Homo sapiens: one gene and its partners. The protein of the gene in region 2 purifies or fractionates together with the protein of the main gene of each other region. This does not show direct contact. Each region holds a gene or a part of one and is shown on either strand. Other genes may lie near its edges. The genes, in order: SPAG9, FAM174A and TBC1D23.

What was found.
Region 1: the proteins of FAM174A (region 2) and SPAG9 purify together in Homo sapiens (co-immunoprecipitation; 3 studies listed by BioGRID and IntAct, with this or other methods). This does not show direct contact.
Region 3: the proteins of FAM174A (region 2) and TBC1D23 purify together in Homo sapiens (co-immunoprecipitation; 2 studies listed by BioGRID and IntAct, with this or other methods). This does not show direct contact.

The regions. Positions count from the first base shown.
Region 1 is NC_000017.11:50,991,869-50,995,368, forward strand, and holds part of SPAG9 (C-Jun-amino-terminal kinase-interacting protein 4), read right to left. Parts: intron 3,357-3,500; coding exon 3,189-3,356; intron 2,068-3,188; coding exon 1,896-2,067; intron 1-1,895. UniProt on the Homo sapiens protein: The JNK-interacting protein (JIP) group of scaffold proteins selectively mediates JNK signaling by aggregating specific components of the MAPK cascade to form a functional JNK signaling module.
Region 2 is NC_000005.10:100,541,698-100,545,437, reverse strand, and holds part of FAM174A (membrane protein FAM174A precursor), read right to left. Parts: intron 1-3,740.
Region 3 is NC_000003.12:100,319,899-100,323,011, forward strand, and holds part of TBC1D23 (TBC1 domain family member 23), read left to right. Parts: intron 1-878; coding exon 879-1,073; intron 1,074-3,113. UniProt on the Homo sapiens protein: Putative Rab GTPase-activating protein which plays a role in vesicular trafficking. Involved in endosome-to-Golgi trafficking.

The DNA of each region.
Region 1 (3,500 bases), on a different chromosome or scaffold from region 2:
CCACCTCAGCCTCCCAAAGTGTCTGGATTACAGGTGTAAGCCACCATGCCAGGTCTTTTTTTTTTTTTTTTTTTTTTTTTTTTTAAAACACAGGGTCTTACTCCCATTGCCCAGGTGGGTGTGTAGTGGTGCAATCGTAGCTCACTGCAGTCTTGACCTCCCCGACTCAAGTTATCCTCCCGCCTCATTTTTTGATTTTTTGTGGAATGAGGTCTCACTATATTGCCCAGACTGGTCTCAAACTTCTGGGCTCAAGTGATCGTCCCACCTTGGCCTCTGAAAGTGCTGGGATTATGAGTGTGAACCTCCATGGCCGGCCTATTTCTAAAGCTTTTCCATCACCTCACACAGAAACTCTATGTTTTTATGAATGTGCCTATTCTAGATATCTCATATAAGCGGAATCATATAATATTTGTCCTTTTGTGTCCGACTTATTTCCTTTGGCATAGTGTTTCCAAGGTTCATCTGTGTTATAACATGTGTCAGAACTTCTACCTAGAGGATAATGTATTGTACTCTTAAAAATTTGTTAAGAGGGCTGGGCATCCCAATACTTCGGGAGGCCAAGGCAGGCAGATCACTTGAGCCCAGGAGTTCCAGACCAGCCTGGGCAACATGGTGAAACCCTGCCTACAAAAAGTACAAACAACTTAGCCAGGTGTGGTAGTGTGCGCCTGTGGTCCCAGCTACTTGGGAGGCTGAGCTGGGAGGATCACTTGAGCCCGGAAGGTCATGGCTGCAATGAGTACAATGAGTTGTGACTGCACCACTGCAATCCAGCCTGGGCAACAGAGTGAGGCCCTGTCTCAAAAAAACAAAAACAAAAATGTGTTAAGAGGGTAGATCTCAGGCTGGGTTCAGTGGCTCATGCCTGTAATCCCAGTACTTCGGGAGGACGAAGCGGGTGGATCACCTGAGGTCAGGAGTTCAAGACTAATCTGACTGCCCGGGGTGGTGGGTCACACCTGTAATCTCAGCACTTTGGGAGACCGAGGCGGGCAGATCACGAGGTCTAGGAGTTCGAGACCAACCTGGCCAATATGGTGACACCCCATTTCTACCAAAAATACAAAAATTAGCCGGGTGTAGTGGCTCGTGCCTGTAGTCCCAGCTACTTGGGAGGCTAAGGCAAAAGAATCACTTGAACCCAGGAGGTAGAGGTTGCAGTAAGCCGAGACGGTGCCACTGCACTCCAGTGTGAGTGACAGAGTAAGACTCCATCTCAAAAAAAAAAAAAAAAAAAGACTAGCCTGACCAACATGGTAAAACCCCGTCTCTAGTAAAAATGCAAACAATTAGCCGGGCGTGGTGGCAGGTGCCTGTAATTCCAGCTACTCGGGAGGCTGAGGCAGGAGAATCACTTGAACCTGGAAGGTGGAGGTTGCAGTGAGCCGAGATCATGCCATTGCACTCCAGCCTGGGTGACAGAGTAAGACTCTGTCTCAAAAAAAAAAAAAAAAAAAAAGTAGAACTCATATTAAGTATTCCACAATAAAATATAAAAAAGAACTTCATTCCTTTTTATGGCTGAATAATATTCCAACATATGGATATATCACATACACTTCTTTAATTTTTAAACTAATGTTTTAACATCACATAATGTTTAATCCAAAACTTTAGAAGACCTTTCCTTATTAATTAATCCAAACAGTCCTCTGGCTCCCAGTTATTTTCTCATATTCCCATTGTTTTATTTTCTTCACAGTATTTTTCACTACCTGAAAATATCTTCTTTATTCAATGGTTTCCAGTTTGTTTTTTAATCTTCCCTAACTAGAACATAAGCTTCATGACAGCAAGGTGCAGAACTGCATCTTCAGCTGCTACATCAGTGCCCAGCAGGTAGGTGGATGGAGGGGAGGGCAGAGAAACGCATGACTCACTCTTACCTGGCACACTTGCAATGCACAGAACATGAGAGTTGCAAACAGTGAAACTGTCTAGGATGTTGCCAGGTTGAACAGCATCAATAATAAGAACTTTTGTAGCCGAATGAGTGCTGGTACAGATCCAAACTAGACTGGATAATTCTTCTTGATTTTTTAACTCCTTCTGCTGTTCCTGTATAGGCAAAGGAGGAAAAATGTTTAAAACAATATGTATGTACAAATATTCATAAGGTGGTGCTGTTACAGTAAAAGGCAATACTATTTCAAATTTATTTCCAGATTATTTGGAAGGGTAAAAATACAACCACTGATGTGGTTTGGCTGCGTCCCTACCCAAAACTCAACTTGAATTGTATCTCCCCGAATTCCCACATGTTGTGAGAGGGACCCAGGGGGAGGTAATTTAATCATGGGGGCCAGTCTTTCCCATGCTATTCTCGTGATAGTGAATAAGTCTCACGAGATCTGATGGGTTTATTAGGGGTTTACACTTTTGCTTCTTCCTCATTTTCTCTTGCTGCCACCATGTAAGAAGTGCCTTTCATCTCCTGTCATGATTCTGAGGCCTCCCCAGAGGTTACCTATGTAAGCCCAATTAAACCTCTTTTTTCCTTCCCAGTCTCGGGTATGTGTTTATCAGCAGTGTGAATATAGACTAATACAACCACCTATCAATATTAATTAGTAGATGAAAAACTAGCAGTTAGGCTGGCACAGTGGCTCACGTCTGTAATCCCAGCACTTTGGGAGGCTGAGGTGGGAGGACTGCTTGAGGCCAGAAGTGTGAGACTAGCCTGGTCAACACAGTGAAACCCTCGTCTCTACAAAAAATAAAATTAGCCAGGTGTGGTGGTGTGGGTGTGTAGTCCCAGCTACTTGGGTGGCTGAAGTGGACAGATCACTTGAGTCCAGGAGGTTAACACTGCAGTGAGCCATGATCATGCCACTGCACTCCAGCCTATGTGATAGAGTGAGACTCTGTCTCTAAACAGCAACACAAAACTAACAGGTAAAGCAGAACAATGATAAAATGTTCCATTAGCTTGATCACTGTAGTGATTACATACGTGTACACATGTGTCAAAACTCTGACCTATACCCATTTCGAGTGCACACTTTATTGCATGTAAATTATACCTCAATATTTTAAAATTGATTTTAAAAGGGTGCTGAGGGACAGTAAGCCAGGGCATAGTAATCCCAATTAGAAGCTGGACCCAGAGGCAAATTTTGGATGAAAGAGTTAAACTCATAGTCTCATAAACCAGGTCAAATGTTAGTACACACACTTACCTTAAGTTCCTGATCTAACTTATCTAAACTACTCTGAGAGGCACTTCGCTGTTTACTGCCTTCTGTATCCAAACCAGCAACATCCTTGTAAAATACACTTGCTCCAACAACAGAACCACCATCTCTGGTCTTCCCACCAGATAAATTGACTCCAACAGCACACCACAGCTTCTCAGGTGAAAAAGAAAACAATATTAAGTCTAGAAATGTTTAGCATTTTCATGTTTTCTTAAAATAACTAATGGTTGTAAATACAGGTCTTATAACCTAATATTATAAAATGAACAATAACCTCACCATAGAAGTAATACT
Region 2 (3,740 bases):
CCACTTTCTTCTTCCAGAAAAAAAAAGGATTATTAAAGAATATAGCAATAAAAATCTATCCAAAAACGCCAAGGAAAACCTGATTTCTTAAGAAAGTAACTTCAATTACTATAAGATTCTCAATTTATGATTTAAGTATTTCTCTAGATATGTTTTATATCATACTGAACAATGCAAATTACCAACATATCTTTCAACCCAATTTCAACATTTTACCATATTTCTCATATTTTAGAAAAGATCAAACCTAAGTAATTTTTTAAATGTAGTCTTCACCAAAGATAAAATTAGAATCAAATGCAATAATATAGAAGAGAAATACTACAATGGGCACTGGAGATCATGACAAAAGAACTCAGGAACTTTGAAGTGTAGGAGTAGAGGTGATACTCAAGATATTTAGCTATTTAACAACTGGCAGGGCATAAGGACCATCTAGTCAGAATAGACGCTTGCTGTAGCAATGGGTCCAGAAACACTGGTAGAGTGTATTGGTAGATACCACCTGAGCATTGCTACCAGTTGATAGTAATGTTCAAATGCTATTGATTTTGTTTTCAGAAAAACTTTGCAATAACTAACCAGAAGCATCTCAATCTAGTTTCTCCATTTTGTCCCACATTCAACCTCTATCAATTACAGAGGAATGCATTTTCTGGTTGTACTCTAATACCCTGAGGACTGCAGTCATGTTAGATATACACTGGTGAATAATCTGCACATTATCTTGGGTAAATACATGCAAATATACACCTGTTAAAAAAACTGACTTCTCTGCACAAGCATATATCATGAGGCTCCAGTATGGAATTGAAATGAGTTAAAATGACTACATTATTGCAGGATTGATGTTAACACCACTCTCACACAGCTACCTCACATTTTTAATCTTCATTTACATGTTTTGATTTCACATACATTATTTCTTTTTTATTCTTTTCCTTTATCTTTCTTTCTCCTCTTTTCCCCCTCTCTCTCCTCTCCTTCTCTCTCTGTCTCTCGATCTCTCTCTCTCTCTCTCTCTCTCTCCAGGATCTCATCTGTTTGAGGATGCAGGAGTACAAATGCAGGGGTACAAATGCAGGGGTATGACCTTGGCCTCAACTGTTTCCGGGATGCAGGGGTACAAATGCAGGGGTACGACCTTGACTTCCTGGACTCCAGTGATTCACTTCAGTTTCTTGAGTAGCTGGGGCCACAGGTCACCACAACTAGCTAATTTTTTCTTTTTTTCATTTTAGTAGGGATGAAGTCTCACTATATTGCCCAGGCTGGTCTCAACCCCTGGATTCAAGCAGTTTGCCTGCCTCAGAATCCCAAAATGCTGGGATTACAGGCATAAGCCACCATGCCCAGCCTGATACATTATTTCTTATTTCCTTTTGATATTAATTCAGAAAACGTGAAAATCTACTATTTTCTAAATAAGGTATAAAAAGCAAACAGTGTAGAAAAGAAGACAGAAACAGAACCACCTATTATAGTCCCCTGGAAATAATGTCATAACACAGGTATTCTCAAAATGGTCTGGAATCACAGAGATTTCCCAGTAGAGTACATGTTCCATTTCATCTTCAAAGACAACCAGGAGTTAAACAAGAGAATAAAGAAAGAATGCAAAGAATTCCATCCTTGAAAAATGTACTTGCATAAAAATATAGTTCACTAGAGACTGGAAGACAAGATAAAATAAAAAATGATGGCCGGTAGTCCCAGCCACTCGGGGAGGCTGAGGCAGGAGAATCGTCTGAATCCATGAGGTGGAGGTTGCAGTGAGCTAAGACTGTGCCACTCCCCTCCAGCCTGGGTGACAGAGGGAGACTCCATGTCAAAAACACCAAAAAATCTGATTAAGGAGCTAATTAAATACTAAAGAGTATGAACATTGATCCCATGAAATGCCATAGAATTGTGCTACCCAATAGAACTTTCTGCAGTGATGGACATATTCTGCATTGTTCTGTCCAATACAGTTGCCACTAACAACATGTGATTATTTAGCCCTCAAAATGTGGCTAGTTGGCGGGTGAAGTGGCTCACACCTGTAATCCCAGCACTTTAGGAGGCCAAGGCAGGCAGATCACTTGAGCTCAAGAGTTCGAGACCAGCTTAGGCAACATGGCAAAACCAAATTTCTATAAAAAATACAATAAATAGCTGGGTGTGGTGGCGTGCGCCTGTAGTCCCACCTACTTGGGAGGCTGAGGTGGGAGGATGGCTTGAGCCCGGGAGGCAGAGGTTGCAGTGAGCTGAGCCAGACCTTGTCTCTAAATAAATAAAAGAAATGCAGCTAGTATATCTAATGGACTGGAATTTTACATTTTATTTTTCATTAACTTTGTTTGAGACAAGGTCTTGCTCTGTCATGAAAGGTGGAGTGCAGTAGTGTGATCATCACACACTGCAGTCTTAATATCCTAGGTTTGAGTGATCCTCCCACTTCAGCCTCCCAAACAGCTGGAACTTACAGGCCTGCACTGCTATACCCAGTATGTGTATATACATATATATTACACACACACATATATATACACACACACATATACCCCCTACACATGTGTGTGAATATTATACACACACACACACACACATATATATATATAAATATAATAAGCAGGATCTCACTATATTGCCCAAGCTGGTCTCAAACTCCTGGACTCAAGAGATCCTCCCACCTTGGCCTCCCAAAGTGCTGGGATTACAAACGTAAGCCACTGTGCCCAGGTAACATAAGTTTTTAAATAGCCACCTGTACCTACTGGCTACCATATTGGACAGTGTAGCAATAAAGGATTATAAGCACACACATAGTATGATAGATTTACATCTCAGAGGGAACACCATCTGTTCAGTGTTGAAGGTAAATTGAAAGAGAGACAGGTGAAGTGGAGAAAAGTTAGAAACAATAGCACAATAATCTAGTGATGTGAACCTAAACTAATGTAAGGTCAATTGAGCTCATAAAGCAGCAATATAGTCAAGAAATATTTAGCAATTGAAATTGGATGACTGTATGTGAATGGTAAGCAAAAGAGAGACATGGGATGACTTAGGTTTCTAGTTTGAGAAACTGTGTAGATGATGGTGTTATTCTCCTTATAAAGAGAGTACAGCAAGATTTGTCCAGGGATAAAAATACTGTTTCAAGCTTAAACTTGAAAACAAGTCTGAATCATCTATCCCGTAAGAAGTTGGCTGGCTATACATGTCTGTAACTCAGAAAGTAATTAACAGCTTAGAGGTGGCCATTAAGGAAATGAATTTTGGATGGATCACCCAGGGAACATGGACAGTGAAAGCAGGGCCCAGAAAACACTGTCAGTTGGGAGGTGAAAGTCATTCTCTTCCACAAAAATTCAATGCATCTCGTTGTATTCTAGGAATCAGATTGGGCCTTTAGGGACCAAAGATGAGTAAGACAGAGGCCCTGCTCTCCAGACATTAGCTTGTAGAAGAGTCCTAATTAGGAAGAAGAGTTCATGGAATAAGAAATTCATGAAGAAGCTAGGCAAGAAATACTCAAGGAGGTAAGAAGAAAATCAGAAGAGATGTCTCAGAAGTCAAAGTAAGAACCAGTGCACTGAGTGCTACAGAAAAGGGGAAAATATCCATGAAACTGAGACAATGTGCTTATTAACCATCTTCTGCATGAGTAATTCTAGAGTGGTAGAATTAGAAGCCAGACTACAAAAAGCATAAGAGAGAATGAAAGGCATGGAAATGGGAACATTTCAATGGAA
Region 3 (3,113 bases), on a different chromosome or scaffold from region 2:
GCATTCTCCTGCACAACTTCAATGCCATTACCCCACCTAAAAATTTTTGTAAATTAACATCATTTAACATACAGATCATACCCCAAATTTTCAGTGTCCCCAAAGTATCTTTTGTAGTGTGTTTTTTCTTTGGTGATCCATGATCCAGTTCATGGTTTACACATTGCATTGTCTGTTATGTGTCTTTAGTCTCACCCTGTGTACAGCAGAACTCATCCCCCCACCCCCTCGCTTCCCTTTTCTCTTCATGATGAATGAATCCTTTGAGTCCAGGTCAATCATCCTACAGAATGTTCCACATTCTGCACTTGTCTGATAACTGTCGTATTGTATTACTGTACATAAAAAATGTGAGAGTATTATATTAAAAAGAAGCTGAGATACAGGGGTTGGGTGAGTGTTAATAATACTATGCTCATTTTGCCTTCAGGATCCAGTTACAGAATGTTTACAAAATATGTAGGGAAACCCAACAATTGCCTAGTGATCTTGGATATTAGATATAGGATATGGTGCATTGAATGAGAATAGTTTATGAATATAGGTAATAGCGTTAAAAAATCTGAAACGTAATATACTCCATTTCAATAAAAAATATATTATTGTAGTGATTTCTATGTTGTATGGAACTTTTTATTATATTTATTATATTTTCAATCATTGCAGGATTATCTGTTAATAAAATATTAATTTTGCATACAATTAAAAGGTGTTAATGTGTAGCTTACTTGTTTATAGATTAACCTCTGTTTATATCTTTTAACTCAATTTTATTTAGAGTTGAACATTTCTAATAATTGAGATGGTTGAAACAACACCTGTTTTGAATTAAATTTACTTAAAAATTCTTTTTCTTTTAATGCTTTTTTTGTCTCAAGTCATCTGTTGGTTACTGCAACACATATGTACTGTTTAAGGGAGATTGTTTCACGGAAAGGATTGGCTTATATACAGTCTCGACAAGCGCTGAATTCTGTAGTTAAAATTACATCCAAAAAAAAACATCCTGAACTCATTACCTTCAAGTATGGAAATAGCAGTGCTTCAGGAATAGAAATCTTGGCAATCGAAAGGTAAGATTTTCCTTAAGATAATATTATCTGAATTCAGATATTATCTGAATTACTGTAGTTCACTATAAAGAGTTTGTTTCTTTATTTTGGGGAATGGATGGTGGAATAGGATAGCTGAACCACTTTTAGTGTTTCTTATCTCTTTCTCCGGAGTCCTTAGTCATGTGTGGTTTAGCCATTAGCACATGATTTGAGTAAGTGCCATAGCTAATTTCATAAAGTTTCTGACCCAAGGATCCTTATTGTTAATCTGTACCAGTGCTGCACTAATTGCTGGCTTGCAGAGAAATAAGAAACTTGTTTTAGAATATGTTGATATTTTTATTTTCCTTCATCGAAAAATTCTTGTTTTGACAAACTGTCAGTGAACTAAGCAGTGTGCTGGGTGATATAGGTAATTTACAGCCTGGTACAAGCCCCCCTTTGTCTCATTGTGGGTCACTAACAGTTCACAGACTGGCCCAAGAGCTGTGGACCACACTGATATTGATACTAAACCATTTTTTAATTATAGATAAAAATATGAAGCCCAGAGGGGTGGAATGACTTCCCAGATCCTAACACTTAGTTTGTGACAGAACCAAATATAGCCTTCCTGACTCCTGATTTGTGGTTTATTATACCTTGCATCAGTTCAAGTTGTTCCCCCACTGGGATTTAGGATTACACTTATTATTTACAGGAGTGCTTGGATAAATAGTAAGCTTAAGGTTATATCGCAGCACTTTTAAATAATCAACTTCAGTTGGAAGAGGAAATTATTCAGCTTCTTTCATCTTGTACTGACAATTAGGTAGCAAACATCATGAATCTATACTGTTTTATGTAATTTGTTAAAAGAAAATAATACCTGATTTGTAAAAAAAAAAAAAATCACTTCATTGCTTTATGTAAGAATAAATATTTACATAGTGATATTTTCAATTAATAATATAAAGAATATGTCATTCTAATTCTCTGTTAACACATTGATGTGTATCTTCTCAGATTTTTTTTAATGCATATGTTATTTCTCTACTAAAAACTAGATAAATGTGATATAGGCTTGTTTTTGTGTTCTGATTTTTTAAGAAAATAGTATAGTGTGAATATACTTACATTTTAATAAATATAAATTTTTTAAAATTAATTAATTAATTTTTTTGAGACGGAGTCTCTGTCACTCAGGCTAGAGTGCAGTGTTGCAATCACGGCTCACTGTAAGCTCCGCCTCCCAGGTTCACACCATTCTCCCTGCCTCAGCCTACCGAGTAGCTGGGACTAGAGGCGCCCGCCACCATGCCCAGCTAATTTTTTTATTTTTAGTAGAGATGGGGTTTCACCGTGTTAGCCAGGATGGTCTCCATCTCCTGACCTCGTGATCCACCCACCTTGGCCTCCCAAAGTGCTGAGATTACAGGAGTGAGCCACCGTGCCCGGCCCAATAAATATAAATTCTTAGCTTTTTAATGGTAGATATTCTGTTATAAGGATTTCTCAGGAGATTGATTTAACAAGCCTCATGTTGATTGGCATTTACATTGTTTTCATGTGTTTCACTATTAATCTTCTAGTGGGCCTTTAAAAACATGTATGTTTACATAGTTGTCCAATTAGTCTTCTCAGGATAAATTCCTGCAAGTAGATTCAATGGGTGAGAGGTATACACATTTTAATATCTACTTATAAATTAATCCTAACCAAAGGAGATTTGAATTATGACTCTCTCATGTATAGTAAAAGTTGGGAATTGTGTTTTAAAGGCTTTCCCACAAATTTTGCTAAATAAATTGAAGTTTATTATATATGGATCAACATCTTTTTTTTTTTAATTCAGAGTTTTGGAAGATAGTCTTAATAGTGGAAGATAAAGTAACTAGATTCTCTCTCTCCCTTTCTTCATTGATATTTATGGTTCTCTATTCTGCCTCGCATATAACACTCATAGATGATTTATACAGTGGAATTGTTAGGTTTTACCGAAGATGCTTTTTTAAAAAAATACCACTATTTTTATTCTCCAAGAAAAGAAAATTGACATTTAATCTATGGTGTTGATAT